4 linked regions of the Homo sapiens genome follow. The protein of the gene in region 3 interacts with the protein of the main gene of each other region in a pairwise test. Each region holds a gene or a part of one and is shown on either strand. Other genes may lie near its edges.

Region 1 (7,030 bases), on a different chromosome or scaffold from region 3:
TCCCCTTGTTACAATTTCTGGCAGAAATCACCACCCACTATAAAAGCTGAAAACACTGGATACTTGCTTTCCCAGACTCCCTTGCAGTAAGGAGGACCACTTGTGCTAGGCTCTGCCTAACAAAGGTATCCACCCCACACTTTGAAAGGAGGGCTGCAAATGGAGCCAGGAATGGAACAGGGAGGGAGACAGGTGTGGAGTAACAGAAGCAGGATCAAGCTCCCAGGCAACAAGGCCAGCAGAGCAAGCTTCAATTTCACACTTGGCAGTGGTAGTGCAGTTCAGCAGCATGATCTGGGTTGTTGAATCCTGAACTGGGATTTGGTATATATAGCCAGGAGCACCAGAAATTCTGAGTTACCCAATATACCCCTTTAATAAACATTTGATATGTAACATATGTACAGAAACAGGCACAGTATAACAGATGTAAGGGAAAAGTGCACGTAACATTAAGTCTACAGCTCAAATAATTTCACAAACCAAAACCACCTGTGTCAAGAAACAGAACATTAACAGGTGTTGACCCACTGCACAGTTGAAAATCTGCATATTATTTTTGACTCCCCCAAAACTTAACTACTAATATCCTACTGTTGACTGGAAGCATTACCAACAACATAAACAGTCGATTCACACATATTTTGTATGTTATATATGTGTTACATACTGTGTTTTGAAAATAAAGCTAGAGAAAAGAAAATGTTAAGAAAATCATAAGGAGGGCTGGGCATGGTGGCTCACACCTATAATCCCAGCACTTTGGGAGGCTGAGGCAGACGGATCACTTGAGGTCAGGAGTTCGAGACCAGCCTGGCCAACATGGTGAAACCCCATCTCCACTAAAAATTTGCTGGGCTTGGTGGTGGTCACCTATAATCCTAGCTACTTGGGAGGCTGAGGCAGGAGAATCGCTTGAACCTGTGAGGTAGAGGTTGCAGTGAGCTGAGATCGCGCCACTGCACTCCAGCCTGGGCAACAGATAGAGACTCCGTCTCAAAAAAAAAAAATCATAACGAGGAGGAGGAAGAGGAGGGGTTGGTCTTGCTGTCTTCAGGGTGGTAGAGGTGAAATAAACTCATGTATAAGTAGATCCACACACAGTTCAAACTTGTGTTGTTCAAGGGTCAACTACACTTCCAAAGCCCTCCTTATTTCCCTTTCCCTTCCCAAGGGTTACTATTCCCTTCCCAAGGGTAACCATTATCCTGATTTCTGACACTATAGATTAATTTTATCCATTTTTCAACTTGATATAAATAAAATCATTCACTATGCTCTCTTTTGTGTCTGCTTTCTTTCCTCAATTTTAGGTTTTGTGAGATTCACCCATGTTATGCATAATTGCAGTCTGTGCTCACTGCTGTATAACCTTCTATGATCAGGTGAATACAGGCCAGGTGGGGTGGTTCACGCCTGTAATCCCAGCACTTTGGGAGGCCAAGGAGGGTGGATCACTTGAGGTCAGGAGTTCGAGACCAGCCTGGCCACCATGGCCAAATCCCACCTCTACTGAAAATATAAAAATTAGCTGGGCATGGTGGCACATGCCTGTAATCTCAGCTACTCAGGAGGCTGATACAGGAGAATCGTTTGAACCCGGGAGGCAGAGGTTGCAGTGAGCCAAGATCATGCCAATGCACTCCACCAGCCTGGGCAACAAGAATGAAACTCTGTCTCAAAAAAAAACAAAAACAAACAAACAAAAAAACTACTTATCTATGCTACCTTTAATGGGCATTTAGTTTCCAGTGTGATTCTATTACAAACACTGCTGCAAACATTCTTGCACATATTAGTAAACACATGTATGCGTGTATGTTGGCTGTATATCTAGGAATGAAACTGTGGGGCCAAAGGGTATGCATTATATCCCAGTTCTTTTTAATAAATTCTTTTCTGCTTAAAATCAATCAGATTGTATTTCTCTTCCTTGCAATTAAGAACCTGGGCTGATATGCTATCTGTTTTTTCAGTAGCCATTTTCTCCACAAAGCTTTCCCTGACTATAAAAGCCCTCAAGGAGCAGTAATAATGCACATCCCATTTCAGTATATTTTACATTATCCTGAATTATTCAGTTATTTTATAGCAGTAAATCCTGTCCCTCCTACTGTCATAAGCTCCAACACAGCAGTTTTCAACTGTCACTTCATAACAAACTGGTGTGCCATGGTAAATTATAGTATACAGTAAGTAATTTGTTACTAATAAAAAAAGTACCAAGTCTGTGAATGAATGATATATATGGATAGATTCAAGATTCCCTTTAGATAACATTTCTGTCACTCGTTTGAACTCCAGTATGCTCCCTTGATCAGATGATCTGATGTATCCCACAACCCCTAGCAGTGTGTCTTTTATATGAATGTCATCTATCATGAGTGTCATGGTAGGGGACACCATGTGTATTACTTTTCCTCTATCTCCTATCATTCCAAGTAGTGCTGAATGCATATTAGATTTTCAATAAATACTGATTAATTATATCAAGGTGAAAACACACTGCAATAGGGACCCAAAACATAGCTTAATCTAATTACAGAGAGGCCAGTCCTTTAGCTCTTCCAAATCTTGAACATATCAGTCTTCTGGATATTCCCTCAAACCCCATGTTGGGTTTCACTTCAATAAATTTTGACATGGATGTCAAGCTAGGAACAGAGCTTTTCCCAAAAGGTAAGTTTACAGTTGAAATATTTACACTTTATTAAAAAGTATCTAGCAAGCAATTTCCATCCTTATTGCTGTGTTTGATTTTACAATACCCAATTTTTAAAAGGCTTTATGACATTAAAAAACCATAGATGAATATATTCTAGAGTGTGTAATTTTAGAGCTGAGAGTTTATTCTCTAAATAAAAGAAAAAGGTATGCCTCAAAATCAACCGTTCTCAAAGTCAAATATCCTCTCAATCCTGTTTTCCAAAAAGGTCATTTGTAAATTCTTTTAGAATGCAGACCTTGACCGGGCAGTGGCTCACACCAGTAATCCTAGCACTTTGGGAGGCCAAGGGGGGCAGATCACTTGAGCTCAAGAGTTCAAGACCAGCCTGGGCAACATGGCAAGACCCCATCTATACTAAAAATACAAAAGAATAGCTGGGTGTGATGGTGCATGCCTGTGGTCTCAACTACTCGGGAGGCTGACATGGGAGGATCGCTTGAGCCCATGAGGCAGAGGTTGCAGTGAGCCAAGATCACTCCACTGCACTCCAGCTGGGGGAATGGAACAAGACCCTGTCAAAAAAAAAAAAAAAAACCTCTCACAGAGAACACAGACCTTACTTCCCCAAGTGTATGACACTGCAAAAAGTGGCTAGGTTTTTGCAAGTCTATTTGACCCAAAGTATAGCTGAAAACATAAACACACAAAATTAGGGGTGGGGGAAGAACATAATGCTAGCAATAAAACAAAACCAATAAAAAGAAACCAAACAATGATCCAAGATACAATGGATTGATTATATAATGAAGTGATTAAGAGTCCCCATTCCTGGAGTGGAAGAGCTAGAACTCAAATCTGGCAGTCCAACTTCCTAGCTGTGAGACTTTGGGCAAGTTACCCTTGTTTAGAATTATAGTGCATATTTCTCCAATAGGTTCTTTGAAAGCATATAAACCCTTCAGAGCTAAAAGAAATTTGCCAAACAAGTTAGATACCAATTTACAAGTCTCCTTTTTAGTAAACACAGCACCTAAAGGGAACCTTCCCAAGTTTTAGCTTTATGTTTACTTTCATCATATTAAATTCTGGACTCTTGTCCTCAAACTCATGAATTTAGAATGATGTTGAGCAAAAGGTCTTTTTAAAATACAGGACACAGAGGCATACGGTACCTATTTATCTTTGTTTTCTATTCAGAGTGATGGTTTTCCTACAAGTTTAAGTCAGATTAACTGTTTCTCCTTTATAATTCCTAATAATAGGTACACTCATTGCATTCAGTTACTTTATACCCTTGCTTTTGGTAAGTTTCTTAAAGGAGAAAAGCAATATGATTTTAAAGTAAGAATGTTGAACACATGAAAAAGAGTATTAAAAGTTAATAAAAATATGTTTTTAAGCTATAAAATGACTTAATTTGTTAAGGCCAAAGAGTGGGTAAGGAAACAAGATTCAACACTACTCAACTAATGGAAAGTGCTTATTGTTGAGCAGTGTTTGGCACACCTCCAGAATTCTTTCACAATGCACAGCAGGATACCAACAAGTACTTATAAAGTATACTTTTGGGTCTGAGGGGATCTCTGATCACTTTAATAAGAAATTATGATCAGAATACTTTTGCACTACAGAAAGAAGAGCAGCCTTCCTGCATCAAGGGTCATTTAAATCAGCTCCAGTGCTACGAAATAATGCTTGGTTATAGACAAAATCTACCCAAAGATATAGGGGAAGAAAGCTGTTCTTTTGGGACATATTTGAGTATCTATAACCCTATCAGATGTGACAATCTGATATTTGGGACATATTTGAATATCTATAACCCTATCAGATATGATAATCAATGACTAACAAACTAATCTGGTATTTGGGACATATTTGAATATCTATAACCCTATCAGATGTGATAATCAATGACTAACAAACTAACAAGCCTGTCCTTTCTTATCTTCTAGCTTGACTTCTGTTTTTCGTTTTTTTTTTGTTTTTTTTTAGGGTTCAGAATTTTTCAGTCCTTTACAGTATCTCTATTATAACTAGAATAATTTGGCAGAACCTCGAAATCAAAGTTATCAGTTAAATGAAATGTGTTAAGCCTATAGAAAAATCTTAGTGCTTGTTTTCTCTCAGAGAAAACCTAACTTTGTGAAAACCTAACTCTCCTCACCAAGGAACTCCTAATTCTCCATATTACCCCCTTCGAGACTACGGAGGTATATCTGAAGGAGTACAGGTAAGAAACTAGCATTATTATATGGGATTATACATTAGTAAATTACTGTATAATTATCCGTACTGCTTAGCACTGATCTTGAAGTTTTCAATCCAAAAGAACTTCTTGCAAAACATCATTTAAAATTCATGGAAGAAAAAGGAGACTAAATGAGTCTAGTTTACCACCATATCCCTAGTGCCCACCAATGAATATCTTCAACAAAAATTCACTACGGGTTAACCATGTACCAGACCCTATGCTAGGTAGGCAATGGGAAGTAACAGTACATAAGATCGTCTCTGCTCTTAGAGACTGCTACCATAGGAGAGACTTGACTAAAACTAGGGGGAAACAAAAAAGCGTGGAAAATAGGCTAGTAACCTAAGATTTTGCAAATGATAAGATTTATTCCTATTTCCCCAGATGGTCACATGGCTGGCCTCCTGCCAACACCCAGGTCTCTGCCCAAATGTCACCCGATAACGGAAGGCCCTCTGACCACATAATATAAAGAAGGATCATCCACCATCACCCATTCCTATCATCTACTCATTCTCCTTTCTCATTACCTGTGTAATTTTCTTCATAGTGTTTTTGTTTTGTTTTGTTTTGAGACAGAGTTTTGCTCTTGTCCCCCAGGCTGGAGGACAGTGGCATGATCTCGGCTCACTGCAACTTCCACCTCCTGGATTCAAGCAATTCTCCTGCCTCAGCCTCCCGAGTAGCTGGGACTACAGGTGCTGGCCACCATGCCCTTGTATTTTTAGTAGAGATGGGGTTTCACCATGTTGGCTAGGCTGGTCTCGAACTCCTGACCTCAGGTGATTTGCCCACCTTGACCTCCCAAAGTGCTGGGATTACAGGCGTGAGCCACCATGCCCGGCCTCTTCATAGTGTTTATCACTATCTGACATTATATTATTTATCTGTTGAGCTTTCTTCTCCCATTAAAATGTAAGCTCCATGAGAGCAGGAACCTCATCTGTCTTATCCATTCCTCTGTCCCTTTCACCTAATATAGTGGCTGGGACACAATAGGCATTCAGTAAACGTGTGGAAGGGAGAGGCTCCTACCAGTAACATACACTAAGAATATTTCTGTGAGGTTTTTCCCACCCAGAAAAGCCTCAAACCTAAAAAAAAAAAATTCTGAACCCTAAAAAAACAAACAAACAAACCAAAAAACAGAAGTCAAGCTAGTTATAAGAATCAATAACCACAGAAGAATCCTGAAATCTATGATATCACAAAAGGACCATAATTAGGCAATTATATAAAGAAAGGATTTTCACCCACTATCCACTTTATAACACCTCTAAATCATATAGCTTCTCTTCGGAAAGTTGTCTGGTCAGTTACAATTCATCCAAATAAACACCAGCATAATTTAATCTCTATGAAAAAGACCAATATATAGCCTCTAAGAATCCTTTTCTGTACTTATTCTAAAGCTGCTGTTTTTAAAAGGTTATGGGTGAAGCTGGGATAGAGTTATAAAGTTACAAAGTCAAACTGGCACAGCTAGAGCACTAATGCTAATAAGACTATAAATTTAGGACAGGTCCTCCTTCATTGGCACTCCGTACAGTACCCAGGCACAGTTCTAGCTACATAGTAGGTACTTTACAAATATTTATTGATTTAGCTACATATTAGGTACTTTACAAATATTTATTAAGTTTTCAAAAACCTATTATTGGTATCCATTTTGATATAGAAAAGTAACTTGTGCAAAACCCACCAAGCAACTGCTAAATTCTTGACAGAAAAAGCTATATGGGAGGACTTTGGGCTCCACACTGAACCAAGAGCCATCAGAAAATGCAGCTGTATAGAAAAATGGTTTCTATTTCATCCTGGAACCTCTTAAAAATCAGATCTAGGTACATTATTAATATTTACTTTTCCAAATCCTGCTCTGAACTTGGAGGCGGAGGGAATCAATCTTGGAAATTTTCCAAGAGGAAGAATCTAGTTAGTCCTGATCAATAAATGGCAAACTAGCAGATGAGCTGATGGGTTCTTTTATGTGCTTCTTTTTGCATGTTTATTTTCTGCAGTGAGTAAGCATTGCTTTTGTAAAAACAAAACAAAAAAGCTTTCATTAAAAAACAAAAAAAAATTTAATGACATGAAAGCCAACAAGT
Region 2 (7,030 bases), on a different chromosome or scaffold from region 3:
TTTGAGGAGGTTCCCCGGAAGCTGTGGTGTAGTTTTTTGAGATCTTGCTCATAGAATTTAGACACCTGGTTACCCCTAGCTGTAAGGGAGGCTGGGAAGTATAGCTCTAGTTTGTTATCCATGTACCAAGCTAAAAACCAGGGGTTCTACAAGCAAGGAAAGAAAGGACATGTGGTGTGCAACTAGGAGTCTCTACCATGTAATGAACCTTTCCCTGCAAATGCCATGCACCCATCTTCCCACACACAGAGCACTCTCACCCCTGCCCTGGGTGCCTCATCCTGTCCCAGCATCCAGCCCCCAAGGTCAGGCTCTCCTGGTGATACGCAGCCCTCACCATTGGGTCTTGAAGTGACTCCTTGGAATTTTAAACCAAAATGTTAAACTTTGGGTGGACTTTTTAACTTTTGGTGAACTTTAAACCAAGAGGCAGGCTGTGTACCCCCACACCCAGTACTGAGCAGTGGAGAGAACATCGTCAGCACAATAGACTCCTGTTTGGAAGAAATGGGAACACGCAGCGGGAGCAGGCCTGGCCCCCAACAGGTCCTGCCGGGTGGGCTTGGTGAACCTCCCTGTGCCCTGTGGAGGAAGCTGCCAGGGAGGGCAGCTTCTGGTGCTCTCTGGGAGGAACGCATGTGTCCTTGGTGAAATCACGTGCTCTGTGCCTGACTCCCGCTCCTGAAGAGCCGTCCTTGTCTGTACTCTTCCAGTGCCACCAGGGAGGGGGATTCCCTTTTGAGACCTGCTTACTCTAGAAGAATGTCTAGAGGAGCCTGGGAATTGGTAGAGGCTAACACAAAAGCCAGCTGTGGGCCAGGCTTGGAGCTCCTTTGGATCCATGAGTCCAAAACTGCCCCTACAAGCTCATCCAGATGTGGGTTCAAGGCAGCCTGGCCCTTCTGCCTGCAGCTCTGCCTCTGAACCAACAGCTTGGGGGCAGGGAGGTGACCAATACACTTCCTTCAGGTTTTAATGTGAAATTGCCTAATTTTGAAATTGCAACAACAATTTTGAAATTGCAGTTTAGATGTCTGAAAGTCATAGTTCAGCACAAACAAGCATGCCTACACACAGATGTGGCTCACAGGAGCCCCAGTGGAGGGTGCTGTTGGGTGGGGGATTAAGGGCCCTTCCACTGATGTGGGCTGACATGAGGGTCTAAGCATCCCGCTTCATCTTGGCATGCATGACCAATAGCCCACACATCTGGAGGAGAGCTGGTCACAGCTGGAGAGCAGGGCTCCTGCAGGGACCGTGCGAATGAGCTGGGATCCTGGGGTAGGACAGAGGCTCAGGACACTCTGGCTGACTTCACTGCCCACCCACAGTGGGGCAAGGTGGGGGGTCAGGGCTGGCTCAAGACCTGGGTCTTGTTGTGATCCCAGAAGACAGGGCTGCCCTGCCCTGTGTGGGGCTCTGAGGAGGGAAGACTGGCCTGGAGCGGGACAGGTGCTAGGGCTGTGCCTGCCTCCCCTGCAGACTCCACCAACCGGGACTCGCTGGACATGATTGAGCGCTGCATCTGCCTTGTATGCCTGGACGCGCCAGGAGGCGTGGAGCTCAGCGACACCCACAGGGCACTCCAGCTCCTTCACGGCGGAGGCTACAGCAAGAACGGGGCCAATCGCTGGTACGACAAGTCCCTGCAGGTAAGCCGTCCAGGTGGCCCTGCAAGAGCACAGCCATGCCCCCAGCGAGAGAGTGAGTAGGCAAGCGGGCACAGCCTGGTGCCCAGGCCCGCACGTGCTTGTGTCTGGCAGGCGCACTCACTGGTTTCTGCTGCCTAAGAGGCTGGGTCTGAGGGGTCAGGAGAGCTGGAGGGGTCTGAGATGTGCTGTTGATGTCAATCTCTGGACCAGCCAGAACTCTTCTCAGGAGCCAGTGGCCGAACCCAACTCAAACTCCCTAACCTTCCTGCAGCCTGTGCCAGGAAGGTCTGGGCCAGACCTGGGGCCCATTTCCCATCACCCATCACACCTGTGAGGTGGGGGTGTGCCAGGAGTAGGAGAGTATAACAGCCCCACTGAACAAATCCTTAATGCATGCTGAAATAATAATTTCTGATGCCCAGAGCTGTCAGCTTTTTGGATGTCCACCCCCGTGGCCTGGCGATTTCAACATACCTCCCTCAATCCCTGAGAAGTAGAACAGCCCAGCATCTCCATGGAAGAAAGACTGTAAGATGAGATAAAATAATTCATATATGTTCATTTACATGACATCAGCCTAGAAGCAAGAAATTTACTTTGACCTAGAGAAAAATACCCATGCAGACGGGATGAAGTCAAGGTCAAACCATTCATTCCCATTCTGCCATCCTCCTTTTATTCCCCCAACATGCCAATCCTGAACCTAGTCTTGTTTATTTTAAAGTCACTACACTTTTATATGATATGCCATGTAGTATAAAACAGCAGGCAAAAACAAAACATCTCTCTACTTTGGGTTAGCAAAGCTCACATTGATAAGCATATCTAGACAACACCTCGTTTTCCTTTCTCTCTGTCCCTACATTCTGCAGGTTTTCCTTTTTATTGGTTTGCATATTGATTCTGTTATTTCTGATGCGCTCTCCAGCTGCTGGGCCAGCTGTTTTAGCCTCTACAGTGGTGCTAATGGCTTATCATCTTTCATGGAGCTGTGGGGGTGAACCGATATAATACATGCACAGAATCTGGAACTCAGCCTTGGTAGCAGTTTTCAAAAGACACCGCTTTCCTTCCTTCCTTCCTTCCTTCCTTCCTTCCTTCCTTCCTTCCTTCCTTCCTTCCTTCCTTCCTTCCTTTTAGTGACAGGCACAGATAAGTACTAATGTGGGGGGTGGGTGCAGCCCTCTCCACCACCTCTCATGGGTTAGTCTATGCTGACCTCCAGGTTCTTTTCATCAGCAGGGCAGATTATCAGGCGAACCAGAGAAGCCAGCAGGGCTTCATGGACCTGAATTCAAGATGATGGAGAACTGGTCTCAGGATAGCAAGGCAGGGGACACTGGGGGCGGGAGGGGAGGGCCTGCAAAGGGTGAGTTTGGGGAGAAGCTCTGTGGGAAGTGAGTTTCTTTGTAGAATGGGAGTAAAGATCCAGCCTCTGGCACACAAGGCAAGAGATTGGGAGGAGACCCCGATGTGAGCTATGACAGGAAACAGGGCTGAAGGGCCTCACCCAGGCCCCAAGGGCAGCTGGGCAGACTCGTCCTGAGGATGAACTCCTCAGAAATCCCTGGACTGCTCAGTCCGGGAACTTGGGGCTCCACCTTCACTGCCCACAGCTTTTACGGGAAAGAGGTCGTGAGTGCAGAGTAGTCTTGGATTCTCATATTCTCAGGCCACTGCAATCACATGCAGTGTTCTCTTCAGGAAATAATGTGCTCTGGTGTCCCTGGAGAAGAGGTGCCCTGAGAAGCCAGGGGCCTAACCTGGGGCCAAGGGGCTGCCTTGCAATGCTGACTCTCCCATGATCGCCCACTCCCTCTTTCCTGTTGCAGTTTGTGGTGGGCCGAGACGGCACCTGCGGTGTGGTGTGCGAACACTCCCCATTCGATGGCATCGTCCTGGTGCAGTGCACTGAGCATCTGCTCAAGCACGTGTGAGTCTGGATCCCAGGGCTGCCATGCTGGGCCCAAAAAAATGTGGGTGGTCGCTGGGGGCTGTGTCAGTCTGGAAAGCGTCTTAACAAAAGATGAATTTGAAAAAAATGTGTACTATACACACACACACACACACACACACACACACACGATGAATTTGAAACCCAGCTTTGTATGCGACATCATGTGCTTCACGGGCCATGGATAGGAGGCAGCAGATTTACGGCAGTCAGGGAGAAGCATGGCAAGGAATTCTCAGGAACCTCTGCCTTGAGAGAGGGGAAGCCTACATCGATACCTATTGCTTATCCTGAGTCAGGGCCAGGCCCACGGCTGCCCCAGCACAGGGGGAGTTCTCTGAGTCTCACTGCTTCCAAATCCCAAGGCTGGGTCCCTCCTTAGCTCCCCAGCAGGGTTCCTCTGTGCCCTAAACACATGGTATTCCTTCCTCTATTCCCAATTTTACCCATTCTCTCCTAGAATCTTCTCCCTGCATCCAAGTCTTCAATTTCTTCCATGAAACTCAGGGTTACTGAAACCTAAACCAAGCCTAGTAGGCACAAACCTTGTAGAAGAGAACAACACAGCTTGCTCTTAAATTTCTCTCCAAGTCTTCTGTAAGGGTGTAACATGGTCTAATAGGAAAACAATGAAAAGAAATAATGGGTTTTGGAGTCAGGCGGAACTGGATGGAGCCCTGGCCCTGCCACTTAATGATTTTGGTGGCCTCTCTGAGCCTCAGTTTATTCATCTGCACGGTGGTTCAGGGGCAGCTCGTACCCCCTGAAACTCCATGGCCGCAAACACTGACAGCTAAGATGATTGCACAGAGCAAAGAAGAGATGCCTCCCACAGCTGTCTGGCCGCAGAGCCTCAGGAGGTTGCCTCTGTGCCCGCAGGACGCAGAGCAGCAGGAAGCTGATCCGAGCAGACTCCGTCAGCGAGCTCCCCGCCCCCCGGAGGCTGCGGTGGAAATGCTCCCCGGAAATTCAAGGCCACTTAGCCTCCTCGGCAGAAAAACTTCAACGGTAAGGATAACCGAAGTCTCCTTTGAGGGGTCCCCTAGGGACCACCCCGCCCTTGCCTACTAGCTCCCAAGGCTCCCTGGAAGTTTCCAAAGACCCCAGCTCCTCTGCCTCTCCTTGGGCTCCACCTCGTCCCCATCCCTCATGTAGTCAAATTAAAGGAGAGATACAACTCTGGGGAAATAACCTTGCTGAAGTATCCATCATTTCTCTAAAATGCAAACGCAGGGCTATTTTTTTTTTTTTTTTTTTTTTTTTTTTCAGTTTCACCTGACTGAGCAGAGTCAAGGCCGGGAAATCATCCCCTGCTTTAGGGGGAGTAATAAACAACTGGTTTGAATAGGTCATTTGAATTCAAGCTATTTAAATTTGCTTGAATGTACAGTGCAACTTGACAAAGGGGCCTTTTTCCCCAAGGGGAGGGGGCCGTTCAGGCCCTAACGGGACCCAGGCAGGAGGGCCTGGGGCAGCAGCAAGCAGTGGTGGCAGCCACATCCTGGCAACCACGTCTGCACTGTAGCTGTTGATTCTCCCATTCAGTAAGCAAGCACGAATGCATTCATTCACTGGTTTGCTCATTCATTCATCAAACATGTGCAGAGCTCTGGTGTGCACCCGGCCCGTGGTAAGGCTCTGAGAACACAGAAAGTTAAGTACCATGGGACCTGCACTCCATATTTGAGTGGAATAAGTAGACTCCCAGGCCAAAACATGTGATACAGTAAGATTAATGCCAAAAGCAGAAACAGCCATGCTGACCTGAACCCACAAAAATATAGAAGCTGAACTCTGTCAGGACTGTGAGGGAGGGCCTTGTAGAGACGGGCCTTGAAGGATGGATAGGAGTTCATGGTGCAAGCAGATGGGGAAGAGGCAGAAAGGCAGCTTCTTCAAGCTTGTACAAGTTCATAATGATGAAGGCTGGTTTGGAGACCAGCAAGTGAGAGAATGGCCAGAGTGGGGCCACAAAAAGGAAGTTGGGCCACACTGTGATGAGTGTCACTGTCCTGTTATGGGCCTAGAGCCTGCCCTGCCACTGGAGGGTTCTGTGCAGGGGGTATGGGGACGCCCCTGAGGAGGCTGTGGGAAGGGCACATGTGAGCAGGACAGAGTGTGGCCAGGCTGGGAAGCTGAAGAGCGGGAAGGACCCATCCACTGGGAGCTGCTGGAGAGGTTGCCTGGCTTCAGTGGGCATGGAGGGGCCTCAGGTGTTCTATAAAGTGGTGCTCACATCTCAGCTTTGCAGGGTTGTTCAGGAGCTAAGTCAGGGGCCAAGGCAGTGAGCTGGTGGGCTGCTGAGTCCTCAGTGGGTAAAGGAGTCCACTCACTTCCAGGGACCTGAGCAGACCCCACATTCCCCAAGGCCCCCAGCTCCACCCTCCAGAGGCTGAGGAGAGCCAGGAAAGGCCCATGGATGGGGAAGAAGGAGGCTTCTTCCTGGGGGTCCTGAGGGGCCCATACAAGTGGGTGAGGCCCGAGTGGGCACAGCTTGGGGGAGAGATTTCCAGGTGGCTGTGGTGATAGTGAGCTCAGTCTGTCCCAGACGTCTGTCAACAGGTAGGTCTAAGGAGCGAGTACTCATGGGAACTGGGTCTCCTCCAAGTCCCCCTGTGTTCCTAGCACCTGGCCCCACCGAGAGCTGAGCTGCTGTGAGCAGGAGGAATACTTCAAGGAGAGGCAGGCAGGGAGCATGGAGTCCCGACAGAAGGTGTGCGTGTGGGCTCGGGGTTCCCACTCAGGCTATGCGCTCTCCAGTGGGGAGGCACATAGACCTTGCCAGACACTGCTCCAGTGGGCAGTCAGCTCAGACCCCAGACTCCTGATGGAGGAGGAGATTGTTCAATATGAGGGTCAGCCAGTGCTCCAGAGTCTCAGTGCAGACTTGGAAAATGTTCCTGTTACTCCGACAGTGAATTACAAAATCCCGGGCATGTCACCTGTGTCACAGTTAATCCCTGACTCACTAACACAGCCAGGCCCACCTCCCCACCCACTCTCCAGAGCAGGGCCGACACCCCACTCAGCTGAGCTCACCTTGGGTCATAGTAGTCCTGGCCTGGTTTGTCTTCTGACACTTTCATAGGTCAAGGCATGTCTCTGACACCTCAGTGCACTCCTGAAGGGCAGGGACTACGTCCGCACCTTCCAGAACGCTAGGACACAGACCAGGCTCTAGAAGCCCGGGGAAACCCCAGATGCATGCATACTGTTTTGCATGCAATAAAAACATCTTTTCTTTTTCTTCCTCAGAATAGTAAAGAACCTTGACTTCATTGTCTATAAGTTTGACAACTATGGGAAAACATTCATTAAGAAGCAGAAATGCAGCCCTGATGCCTTCATCCAGGTGGCCCTCCAGCTGGCCTTCTACAGGTGAGTGAAGGTGGAGTGAGTCTGTACCCTGGAGGGCTGACGGACA
Region 3 (7,030 bases):
CTTTAAGGTGTTAAAGTAATGCACAGAAAATAAAAATAGCAGCCTCATAAATCTGCACGGCATTGCATTCAAGCAAAGGACAATATGAGTAACTTAGAGAAATATCCACATTCAATGCACTTAATGAAATCCTGTTTTCTTTGGAGTTACATGAGGCAGCAGTACTAGCTAGTGTCTAATATTGCACTTTTATAGCATAAACACAGCTAAACATAGTGTTAAACACTGACAGCATCAGTACCTGTTCTAATTGCATCAGTGTTTACCTCTCAGTCTAGCATGCTGACTATAGTCCTATGCTTTAAAAGGTTATAATTATTTGACAGTTAAGGCATTAGAGGAAAAAGGTTTAAGGCTATCATAATATATATAAGCATTCACTTCTGTTCAGTTAGTGTATTGTTTTCTAGAATACACTGTTCAAATTGTCTCACTTCTGGGATATTAAAAACTATGGAATTTCTCTTATTAAAGTCCAAACCATCAATAATGAAAAAAGTACAATATAAAATAATACATATGAAGCCACAATATTCAATTACAGTTCAAACTAGAAATTACTAACTACATGTAGCTGCTTCATTTTTCGTTTTGCATTTTGGCCCCTAATTCATTATTTACAACTGATACCTGCTGAGAAAAAGATCCAAACTTTTAAACTTTGTATGTTTTGTGGAGGGTGCACAATTTCTTCTAATTTATCTTCAGGTGTTTTAAAATTTAATTTGTTTTTAATCATAAGATATCATCATGGCCAAGAGACTGGGAAAATAACAATTTTATTCTTTCTCCTAAGATTGTGATTTTATTATTCCAAGATCTTATGCTTGAATTACTTAGCAAGAAGGCATGATTATGCAGAAGACAGGGAAATGAAGAGAAAAGAGCGGGAATATACAAAAATGAAGCTTCCTTAACAGAGTTCATGGTGGAGATGGTAGACACTGGTGGAGTTTTTATCCAAGACTTAAAACTTAGGAAACACCTATGATGCCACTTTAACTGGAAGTAATGGAGACATCTGATTCCAAATTCACATTTTAAATGCCTATTTGCAATCAGCAAAGAGCCAGGTATGCTGCATGCTGCTTGCTGTAAGTTACGATTTGGCTTCACTAGCTCAAATTTTTTCACTCCACCAAAAGATAAGGCACAGGCCCGTTTGTCCAATCAAGTTTGCTGAAAATACTGCAGCCTGAGTGTAGACAAACTTCCCCTGAATTTGCTAGAAGTTTTCTTGTGTCTGGAGGTTTCAAGATCACCATACATCTTTCAAACACTGAAAAAAAAAAAAAAAAAAGTGAATAAAAGGAAATGTTATAGTCTCTAAATGTCATTCTCAGCAGCCACAAAAATGATTTCAAATTCCACAAGGACTTTGTGGAAAAAAAGCCTTAAGATGGTCCAAGTTATTATTTCACACAGACATAGTTGGCATTTACATGGCAAGGGCTTTGGGAGTACAGCACTAGCCAAGGAAGTTTCCATGGTTTACACAGTAGTTGGCGTTCTGCACCACTCCTACCCTTTGTAGTATCATGTGTTTAGTTTAACATGTATGGTTTCCGACTCCCTGCTCAGCTCAGCTCCTTTCTGGAGAGACTATTTCATTCATTCCTTAGAGGTTCAATATCATTACCAAAATAAACAAAACAATTTAGACAAAATTTTAAAGTTAAATTCTAGTATAAGAAATTCCAAATAATTTCTAAGACACTTAATAAGAAGCAATAAGGAGCCGGGCATGGTGGCTCATGCCTGTAATCCCAGCACTTTGGGAGGCTGAGGCAGGCAGATCACATGAAGTCAGGAGTCTGAGATCAGCCTGGCCAACATGGTGAAACCCCATCTCTACTAAAAATACAAAAATTAGCTGGGCGTAGTGGTGTGTGCCTATATTCCCAGCTATGTGGGAGGCTGAGGCAGGAGAATTGCTTTAACCTGGGAGGTGGAGGTTACAGTGAGCCAAGGTCATGCCATTGCACTCCAGCCTGGGCAACAGAGGGAGACTCTGTCTCAAAAAAAAAAAAAAAAAAAAAAAAAAAAAGCAATAAGGCATGACATAACAGCAAACATATGGGCTCTATATGCCTGTGACTAGTTGATGATTAGCACCTTTATATGGATCATGGATAAATTTATTTCATCCCCACATACAACCTTTTAGATTACCTTGTTATCCCCATTTTAGAGAAGGAAAAACTGAAGCACAGAATGATTAAGTTAGTAATGGGCAGATGCAGGATTTAAACTAATACAGATTGGTTCCACTATGTTATTTTACTTATATACCATACAACCTTAAAATAAGAACTTTTAGTAGGCATTATATATTGTTTTGAAACAGGGTCTAGCTCCATCACCCAGGATGGAGTATGGAGTGATATGATCCAATCATAGCTCACTGCAGTTTTTTTTTTTTTTTTTTTTTTTTTTTCAAAAAGAGATGGTGCCTTGCATTGTCACCCAGGCTGGAGTACAGTGGTGAGATCAGAGCTCGTTGCTGCCCCAAATTCCTGGGCTCAAGGTATCCTCCACCTCGGCCTCCTGAACAGCTGGGACTACAGGCACACCACTATATCCAGCTAATTTTCAAATTGTTTGTAAAGACAGATTCTCACCATCCTGACCAGTCTGGTCTCAAACTCCAGGCCTCGAGCAATCCTCCTGCCTTGACCTCTCAAAGTGCTGAGATTACAAGTGTGAGTCACAACACCTGGCCCTAGGCTAAATAAAAGAGATATATATATATTTTAGAGATGGGGTCTCCCTATGTCGTCCAGGCTAGTCTCAAACTCAGCCTCAAGTGTTCCTCTTGCCTGGCATTCTAAAGTACTGTAAAGTGCTGAGATTACATGTGTGAGCCACCACACATGGCCATTATGCATACTTTGACATGTAAATGAAAAACAGGAATGTTTTAGACTTCAGTCTTATTTCATATGGCCAGTATGAAATGTCTAATGGAGTTTTACTGCTTAACAATGAAACTGAAGACTCCTAACTGCTAGCAAAAAAAAAAAAAAAAGTCTCAGAAGCACATGAAGATTAATTTATTTCAAGATTAAATCTGCCTTAATAACATAGATTCTACAAATGGTACAAATCTAATATCAGGTATTTAAAAAACATGGAAATATTGGTTAGGATGCATCTTTTAAATGTGGTTTCCAAAGTGACCACAATTTGGCACTCAGTTTAAAATACCACATGCTGAAAGGCTTCTCCTTTGACACTAAATTCAGATAAGAAAATCAATGACCCAACACTATTGATCAGTATCTATTTTACCCCTCTTTTGGCAGTAGCACCTGAATTGAAAACAACTGCCCCATCACCTAATCTCAAGCCCCTAAGAGGCAGTTTTACCACTGAGCCAAACAAGGGGCCCAGACATGGCCAGTTAGAGCCCTGCATATCCCAGGTCATTGTGGTTTTAGGATGAACGTAAGCCAGGCCAGTGAAGGCCAAGTGTTGCTAGGGGTATCTCAGAGAGTGAGTTTGGATGAGCAAACCCTTGGATCCAGCTACATCAGTCAACCCTGGGACTGTCAGTTATTAGAGTCAGTGAGTACCAACTTCTTCATTCCTATCACATTTATACTAGGAAATAGCATCTTTGTAGATGCTGAAAATTAAGCCTTCATATTCTGATAAAATGTGGAAATGCCAGGAAAAGTTAAAGTTAAACGTTTAGCCTTCTCGAACCGTTTTTTAATGCCAGTGGAGTTTGACTGTGTAACAATGAAACTGAGGCCAGGAGCGATGGTTTATGCCTGTAATCCCAGCACTTTGGGAAGGTGAGGCGGGCAGATCATGAGGTCGAGATGGAGACCATCCTGGCCAACATGGTGAAACCCTGTCTCTACTAAAAATAATAAATAAGCTGGGAGTAGCGGTGTGTGCTTGTAGTCCCAGCTACTCGGGAGGCTGAGGCAGGAGAATCGCTTGAACCCGGGAGGTGGAGGTTGCAGTGAGCCGAGATTGCGCCACTGTACTTCAGCCTGGGGATAGAGCAAGACTCTGTCTCAACAACAACAACAACAACAAAAAGAAACTGCAGACTCCTAACTGCTAGCAAAAAAAAAAAAAAAACAATCAATCTCAGAAGGAGATAATGTTTCCTCTTCCCGTTTAGCTATAGCAAACAAAGTTGAGAATTACAACTGCAGACATTTACAAATCTGATTTCCCTTTCAAATAAGATCTGTGTTAAAACATGTTTTTATTTTGTAATACACTGTCATTAAAGTATTACATACAAAGAAGTCTTTAAAGATATCTGGATTTCACCACTGGTGCTATATGCTACAGAATGAACCTATAATCCCTTAAAAACCCTGCAATTCTACAGCCAGGCATGGTGGAGAACACCTATAATCTCAGCTACCAGGGAGGCTAAGGTAAAAGGCTCACTTGAAGGCTGGGCGTGGCGGCTCACACCTATAATCCCAGCACTTTGGGAGGCCGAGGCAGGCGGATCACGAGGTCAGGAGATTGAGACCATCCTGGCTAACATGGTGAAACCCCATCTCTACTAAAAATACAAAAAATTAGCTAGGCATGGTGGTGTGCGCCTGTAGTCCCAGCTACTCAGGAAACTATAAGTACTTCCTATGTGTTTTTACTGTTATTCTGGACTCAGATTATCTAAATGGAAAAAATAAGATCTTATAAAAAGTTTGTTCTTTTTAATCATCTTACACAAGAACTTGCAACATAAAGTTACAAAATGATCAAATACAGTTTTTATATTTTTTCATGTAATTAACTGGTAACCGTCCAGACAGAGGTAAATACTGTGTTATTTTTGCATAAAATTTCTCAGTAGGAATTTCTCATTATTTAGAAAGTTTATGTAATCTGAACTCTTTAGAACAGATCCTATGGAAGGCCTAGAAAACACACCTATCAAAAAAGCAAAGCCCTGTTGCTTAAGGCTGACAGTCCAATAACAAAAAAGGGAAAGATAACACTGATCTAAGTACTACACTCCAGCCTGGGTGACAGAGTGAGATTCCATCTCAGAAAAACACAAAAAAACCCTATGTCCCTATGATTATTATAATCATGACAGCAAAAGTTATGTATTAATATAAAACTTTAGTTTGTAAAACTTGTTTTCATTCATTAACTCTCGCTCTGTCGTCCAGGCTGGAGGGCAGTGGCACGATGACAGCTCACCGCAACCTCGACCTCCTGGGCTGAAGCCATCCTTCCACCTCAGCCTCCCGAGTAACTTGGACTACAGGCATGCATGACGACACCTGGCTATCTTTTAATTTTTTGTAGAGACGAGGTCTCACCACATTGCCCAGGCTATTCTTGAACTTCCAGGCTCAAGCAATCTTCCATGCACAGGCATAAGCTACCATGTACAAGCCAAAATATCATTAATAGATTTAAATTTGGGGGCTGACATTGCCTTTGAGACCTAACAGATACGAAACTTGGAACTTGGCCAGGCACAGTGGCTCATGCCGGTATCCCAGCCCTTTGGAAGGCTGTGGCAGAGAGACAGCTTGAACCCAGAAGTTCAAGACCAGACTGGGGCAACATAGTGAGACCTTGTCTCTATGGGGACAAAAAAAAGAAAAAAAAAAGAAAAAGAAAAAGAAGAAAGCAACTTGGAATGTAACAGTAACTGGAGAAAAACACCCTTTCTGGCGATCTGAGGAAGCATTTCTTCCAGCCCGACACCCAATCTCCTTCCCAGAAAGGCTTGTGGGCATCTTGAATGGTTAAATGAAGCATATCTCCACTGATTCAGTGGGATAGTCAACGTGTGTTGGCTGGGTTGATGGGACAAGGCAAGAGAAGACAGAATAGTGTGACTTCTTTACCAGACCTCGCTGTGGGTGTTAGCTTTCTTTACCTGATCCTATAGCCAGCCATGAGATCAATCGCTCAATTCTTTTTTTTTTTTTTTGAGATGGAGTCTTGCTCTGTCGCCCAGGCTGGAGTGCAGTGGCGTGATCTCAGCTCACTGCAACCTCCACCTCCCAGGTTCAAGCAATTCCCCTGCCTCAGCCTTCTGAGTAGCTGGGATTATAGGCACACACCACCACACCCAGCTAATTTTTTTCTATTTTTAGTAAAGACAGGGTTTCGCCACGTTGGCCAGACTGGTCTCGAACTCCTGACCTCAGATGATCCACCTGCTTCAGCCTACCAAAATGCTGGGATTACCGGCATGAGCAACCGCACCCGGCCCTCTTAACACACACACACACACACACACACACACACATACACACACACACACATTTTTTTTTGAGTCGGAGTCTTGCTCTGTTGCCCAGGCTGGAGTGCAGTGGCGCGATCTCGGCTCACTACAAGCTCTGCCTTCCGGGTTCATGCCATTCTCCTGCCCCAGCCTCCCGAGTAGCTGGGGCTACAGGCGCCCACCACCACACCCAGCTGATTTTTTGTATTTTTAGTAGAGACGGGGTTTCACCGTGTTAGCCAGGACGGTCTCGATCTCCTGACCTCGTGATCCGCCCGCCTCAGCCTCCCAAAGTGCTGGGATTACAGGCGTGAGCCACTACACCCGGCCCTCTTAACATATTTTTAAAAATACTGTTAGTTTCCTGTCACTGCTGTTACCATAAATTGGGTGGCATAAAATAAGAGGTATTCATTCTCTAACAATTCTGGAGGCCAGGAATGAGAAACTGTGTCAGTGCGGCTGTGCATCCTCTGGAGGCTCCAGGGAGCAGTCAGGTCCTTGCCTCTTCCAGCTGCTGGTAGCTGGGAACACTCCTGGGCTGTGTCAACAGCTCTCTCATCTCTGCCTCCCTCGTCACATTGCTGCCTCCTCTTCTGTATGTGTCTCTGTCTGATTTCCCTCTGCCTCTTTCTTACACGAGTGATTGTATCTAGGGACCACCCAGATAATTCATGATCTATTTTCCTCTCAAGAACCTCATTACAGCTTTTTCCATAGAAGGTAATAGTCACAGGTTCCAGGGATCAGGATGTGGACGTATCTCGGTAGCCACCATGCAGTCCACTGGAAGCACTTTGCCAT
Region 4 (5,976 bases), on a different chromosome or scaffold from region 3:
TGGATTCTCTCCCATAGAAAACTGCACACCCTCATAACCTTTTGCACCTACTCTTTTTTTTTTTTGAGACAGAGTTTCGCTCTTGTTGCCCAGGCTGGAGTGCAATGGCTCGATCTTGGCTCACCACAACCTCTGCCTCCCAGGTTCAAGCAATTCTCCTGCCTCAGCCTCCCGAGTAGCTGAGATTACAGGCATGCACCACTACGCCCGGCTGATTTTGTATTTTTAGTAGAGATGGGGTTTCCCCATATTGAGGCTGGTCTCGAACTCCTGACCTCAGCTGATCCACCCACCTCAGCCTCTCAAAGTGCTGGGGTTACAGGCGTGAGCCACCGCGCCCGGCTGCACCTACTCTTAGAGAATTCTCAGGCCCCACGCCTTACCCCAACTTCTGTTACCAGTGGTGAATCCAATGGGTCTGCAGCAAACTTGATGCTTGCCTTCTCAAAGACAGAACTCAGCTGAGGGGCAGAGGTGGTTTTAAGTGGTTTTAAGGCACAGGGAGAGACCAAGGCAAGTTTTAGAGCAGGAGTGAGAGTTTATTAAAAAGTTTTAGAGCAGGAACAAAAGGAAGTACACTACACTTGGGTCAGGCAGGCAACTTGAGAGATCTAAGTGCCCTGCCTGACCCTTAACTTGGGGTTTTATGTATTTGGCATAGTTCTGGGATTTACGTCTCATCTCCCCTGATTCTTCCCTTGCAGCAGGCTGTCCGCGTATGTGGTGACCTGCCAGCACTTGGAAGGGGTCGCATGCACAGTGTGATTACTGAAGTTGCGCGCATGCTCACTTGAGGCATTTTTCCCCTTACCAGTCGTGCGTTCCCAGAGGAAGGTAGGTCATATACTGGTTAAATTCCGCCATTTTGCCTCTTGGTGCGCATGCTCCAGGCTGCTTGCCCAGCTCCTGAGATCTTATCGGGAAGCGGCTGATCACCAGATCAGGGTGTTTTGTATCTATTGAGAGACTGTCCTTGCTTGGAGCTGGCTGCAACCAATTATTATTTTACAGAGACAGTTTAACAACCACCTGACCATCACCTGATGGTAGCCTGACATTCCTGTGGGGGCCCTCACCTGTCCTGCTCATGTTTGCCTAGCTCCCTACTCTAACATTTCCACTCTGTGGACCCCAGGTTGAGATCTTCTGCAGGGAAGACTGTCCTCAAATAGCCTGCTGGGGAGACATCTCCTTCCCGTTTACCTTTCCATTTGCCCTTGCGGTGTTAGGCAAAGGCTGAAGCTGGCCTCTGTGGCAGAGGGTTTCTTCCCAACACGCCAATGACGCTGGTGGAGAGTCTTAAAAACAGCTGTGCTGGGGAGAGTTCTTGGTGTGTACCTTTCAGAGACCTCCTCCTTAAGACTCTCAAAGACTGAGTCAGGCCAGTGGGAGCCTGGCAGCAATTCTTAGGGGACAGTGACAGCTTTTTGAGGAGGACTAATTGGCTTCTAGGGCTGGAGGCCACTTGGGTCTGACAGACTGCCCTGCTGCCATCCCTCCAGGGCACCCCCCACTCCCTTGCCTCAGGGCCTTCCTGCACTTCTTCCTTTTGTCCTCAATGTTCTTCACCCCACCTTTTCCACTGGTACCCTCTGCCTATGGTCAAGGCTTTGGTGAGACCCACTTTCCTCTTAGACCTTCCTGGATCCCCCAAAGTCTGTGTTGGAAGCCCCTCCCATGTGCCCTTGTTTGAGCTTTTAATTTTCCACCATGACGCTTGTCACACTGCTTTGTAATTGGCTCTCTGTTAGTCTGCATCTCTACTGGGTTGTACCTTCCAGGAGGACAGCTGCCATGTGACTCTTGTAATCTTCCCACCGCCAACACCCAGCACAGCGTCAGGAACACAGAGCATGATGAGCACAAGCTTGTTGAGCAAACAGACAAATAACTGGATGCTTCTGTGCAGAGTTTCTCAACCTGGCCATTATTGGCATTTGGGACTTGATCATGCTTGGTCGTGGGAGACGGTTCTGTGCCTGTAGGATGTTTAGGAGCATGCTTGGTTTCTACCCACCAGATGCCGGGAGCACACCCACCCAGCTGTGACAACCAAAAATGTCTCCAGACACCATTCCAAAACCAGCGGGAGACAAAATCGCCCGACAGTCGTTGCTTTAGTGAGTGAATGTTGACCTAAGCGTCACTTCGCCTGTCTTGAGTCTAGGTCGGGGAGTGGGTTCAGTTAGCCAATCAGAGAACGCTGATGGGGCGACCAGTATATGCTCATGAAATGGGTGGCTGACCTCTTGGGGTCAGAAGAGGGAAAAGTTTTACTGTGTGTTGGCTAAGGACCATTTTAAGTCCTTCAGTGACCGATTACCACATGAGAACACAAGAGGGCGCTCTAACTAATGAGTTCCGCGGCCGAGAAAACTCCTGGAGTGGGTGCTCCTGGGATGCTTCAGGTTTAGACACCGGGGTTACGGCAGCTGCCGAGGAAGGCTAAAGCCAGCGTCCTGGATTCAGACAGACCTTTTAGCCATTAAATCCACTAAGAAAGATCCCTGCGCATGAAGTTTCCTCCTCGGAAATATAGGCAGAAGGGAAAGTAATTTTAAACTCATGTGTGCTCCACAGGCCGGGGGCGGTGGCTCATGCCTGCAATCCCAGCACTTTGCGAGGCCAAGGAGGGAGGATCACTTGAGCCCAGAAGTTCGAGACCAGCCTGGGCACCATGGTGAAACCTCATCTCTGCAAAAAAAAAATTAAAAATTAGCCAGCTATGGCGGCTCACGCCTCTGGTCCCAGCTACCCAGGAAGCTGAGATGGGAGGATCGCTTGAGCCCAGGGGTTCGAGGCTGCGGTGAGCCATTGTTGTGCCACTGCACTCCAGCCTGGGCAACAGAGCAAGCCCCTGTCTCAACAAAACAAAACAAAACAAAAAATTCAGTCGTGCTGCATAAGTAAGGCACCAGGAGTAGGAATAGGGTCTTTGCAGCTCCCGTGGCAATTGCCCTTCTCTGGTGGTGGCAAGGGACTAAGGAACTCCCTGGACACAGGGGATCTGGCTGTCCCCAGATCATCAACAGAGACATGAAGGTCGTTAGAGGTCGTCTGATCCTTTGACCTCAATCTGAGCCCACCACTCAGAAAACCTGGAAATTGTATGACATTTTCGTGATACAACTCGGTGTGTGTGTGTTGGGGAAAGGAACCAACAGCTTTCATCATATTGTCAAAAGAGTCTAGGCTGGGCATGGTGGCTCACGCCTGCAATCCCAACCCAAAGGCCTGTGGAGCACACATGAGGACAAGGCGGGCAGATCACCAAAGGTCAGGCATTCGAGATCAGCCTGGCCAACGTGGTGAAACCCCATCTCTACTAAAAATACAAAAATTAGCCAGGCGTGGTGACATGTGCCTGTAATCCCAGCTACTCGGGAGGCTGAGACAGGAGAACTGCTTGAACCCAGGAGGCGGAGGTTGCAGTGAGCAGAGGTTGCGCCGCTGCAGTCCAGCCCGGGCAACAAGAGCGAATCTCCGTCTCAAAACAACAAAACAAAAACATAGACCTGCTCGGTTCTCTCTGTGACTTCAGAGGCCCAAGGAGTCCTCAGCACTATAGATGCATGTGGCCCCTCAGAAGACAACATTTCACAGATCTGCAAAGAGCAAAGGTCAAATTTATTTAATACAACATCCACGAGGGTCCCTGCAGCTGTGTCACTGAGGCAAACAGGAAAAGTGATTTTGGCTAGGCGTGGTTCTCATCTGTGAAATTCCACAGCGCAATGACAGCAGCCTCTCTCCCACCCACTCAAGACACTGTCAGGAATGTCTTAAGACCTCAGGAGACCACTTCTTTAGCAAGCAATTTTGTTTTTTGTTTTTTTTGAGATGGATTCTCACTCTGTCACTCAGGCTGGAGTGCAGTGGCGCGATCTCCGCTCACTACAACCTCCGTTTCCTGGGTTCAAGCGATAATCTCACCTCAGCCTCTTGAGTAGCTGATACTACAGGCATGCGCCACCACGCCCGGCTAATTCTTGTATTTTTAGTAGAGACAGGGTTTCATCAGGCTGGTCTCAAACTCCTGACCTCAGGTGATCCGCCCACCTCAGCCTCCTGAAGTGCTGGGATTACAGGCGTGAGCCACCTTGCCTGCCCTGGCAAGGAATACATTTTTAAAAATTAGTAAGAAACATACACATTTCAAGTTTTCAATTAAGAATAATATTTGCTGATGGCACCATCTTCCTGTCTTTCAGCCTTCAGCATGGTAGAGGAAAAGAGAAAGAGTGTAGACAAAAACAGTTGAAGAACATCTGTGCTTGTTCCACCTTCATTTTCTGTTTTGTGCGTTGCCTGAATGAACGGTGTCTTCAGGTTGGTATTTCACAGGCGGTGCTCCCAAGTAGTCTGGTTTTCCCATTTGTGGAGGGCGAGGTCATAGAGGGGACAGGGGGAGGCTGTCTGGTCAGCACTGTGTATTTCCAAAGAACAAGGACTAGCCAAAACTACAAGCCTTTGAAGGACCAAAGGAAAAGAGAAAAAACCAGCCTCTAACCAGGCCATGCGCTAGAAATGATTGAGTATAAAAAAGAAAATTGGTTTCTGTGTATGAGGGTGCATGGAAAAGGTCTTTATCTCTGCACAAAACAAAATATTCAAGTTTCAGAATATCCCAATGGCCTTGCCCTGGATCTCCTCTTGTGCTCTTCCAATTTCCAAGGATGTTCCAACTTGGTGGAAGGAGGGTATGTGGGAAATTCAACAGCCCCTCTGTATCTCTTTCTACCCAACATTAACTTAGCAGGATGGATTTAAGAACCGGCAGCTTAGCCTGAGGAATTGCTGTGTTCTGTGGGAGCAGGGCAGGTTCATAAATAAGTGCACAGAGGTCTTGAAATACAGGGATTATCTGTTCTTCTCGGAACATGGATGTCCTTCCAGGGATGTGCATCTGGCCTTGCTGTCTAAGTTCCATCAAGGGAGCCTTCCGTTCTCTGTAGCGACAAGAAACAAGGCAAGTTATGATCACACCTCTCAAGATTGAAGATTGCCCTGGTGGAGAGAAATGCAAAATGACAGCACTTCTCAAAGAAAATGCAAAGCAGGGCTGTCACACACTGGTCCCCCACCCTGCAGGGTTCTCTCTGTGACTTCAGAGGCCCAAGGAGTCCTCAGCACTACAGATACACGTGGCCCCTCAGAAGACAACATTTCACAGATCTGCAAAGAATAAAGGTCAAATTTACTTAATACAACACCCACCAGGGTTCCTGCAGCTGTGTCACTGAGGCAAACAGGGAAAGTAATTTTGGTTAGGTGTGGTTCTCACCTCTGAAATTCCACAGCACAATGACTGCAGCCTCTCTCCCACCCACTCAAGACATTGTCAGGAACGTCTTAAGACCTCAGGAGACCACTTCTTTAGCAAGCAATTTTTTTTAGATGGATTCTCACTCTGTCACTCAGGCTGGAGTGCAGTGGCGCGGTCTCTGCTCACTACACCCTCCCTCTCCTGGCTCCTGCCCGTATGTATTTCTCCTTCTCTCCATGCCTGCTCTGTAGGGACCATAGCCTCTGTCCCTGCATACATGTTGGACATCAATCACATCAGTCCACCAAGTAACTTCATCAAGCACCCATGTACGCCCAGCACAGCGTCCCAAGGGTGCCCCACTTACCCACAGAAGAAGAAAGGCAACTTTGTAAGAGATCTGACTTCTAGCTCCAGTTCTGTCTCTAGCTAACGTGAGATGTACCCGTTTGAGGCCTGTTTTTTAATTTTGAAAATGAAGGACTGAACTTAGATGGTCCAACTGAAATGTTTTAAAATGATATGATTCTACCTTAAAAAGAGAATGAAATTCTGATATATTTTCAACACAGGAAAACCTTGAAAACGTTATGCTAAATGAAATAAGGCAGACATGAAAGGACAAATATATGATTCCACTTATGTGATGTACCTCAAATAGTCAAATTCATAGAGACAGAAAGTAGACAGTGGTTGCTAGGGGTTGCTGG

Evidence for each region.
Region 1: the proteins of ESRP1 (region 3) and LAMP2 interact in binary tests that used the Homo sapiens proteins (3 or more experiments, as listed by UniProt).
Region 2: the proteins of ESRP1 (region 3) and CHAT interact in binary tests that used the Homo sapiens proteins (3 or more experiments, as listed by UniProt).
Region 4: the proteins of ESRP1 (region 3) and PECAM1 interact in binary tests that used the Homo sapiens proteins (3 or more experiments, as listed by UniProt).

Annotation. Positions count from the first base shown.
Region 1 is NC_000023.11:120,459,275-120,466,304, forward strand, and holds part of LAMP2 (lysosome-associated membrane glycoprotein 2 isoform A precursor), read right to left. Parts: intron 1-7,030. UniProt on the Homo sapiens protein: Lysosomal membrane glycoprotein which plays an important role in lysosome biogenesis, lysosomal pH regulation and autophagy.
Region 2 is NC_000010.11:49,645,023-49,652,052, forward strand, and holds part of CHAT (choline O-acetyltransferase), read left to right. Parts: intron 1-1,482; coding exon 1,483-1,652; intron 1,653-3,484; coding exon 3,485-3,585; intron 3,586-4,485; coding exon 4,486-4,614; intron 4,615-6,861; coding exon 6,862-6,984; intron 6,985-7,030. UniProt on the Homo sapiens protein: Catalyzes the reversible synthesis of acetylcholine (ACh) from acetyl CoA and choline at cholinergic synapses.
Region 3 is NC_000008.11:94,700,174-94,707,203, reverse strand, and holds part of ESRP1 (epithelial splicing regulatory protein 1), read right to left. Parts: intron 1,280-7,030; coding exon of another isoform or gene 1,259-1,279; 3' UTR 1-1,258. UniProt on the Homo sapiens protein: mRNA splicing factor that regulates the formation of epithelial cell-specific isoforms. Specifically regulates the expression of FGFR2-IIIb, an epithelial cell-specific isoform of FGFR2.
Region 4 is NC_000017.11:64,318,897-64,324,872, forward strand, and holds the end of PECAM1 (platelet endothelial cell adhesion molecule precursor), read right to left. Parts: intron 4,950-5,976; coding exon 4,920-4,949; 3' UTR 519-4,919; downstream 1-518. UniProt on the Homo sapiens protein: Cell adhesion molecule which is required for leukocyte transendothelial migration (TEM) under most inflammatory conditions.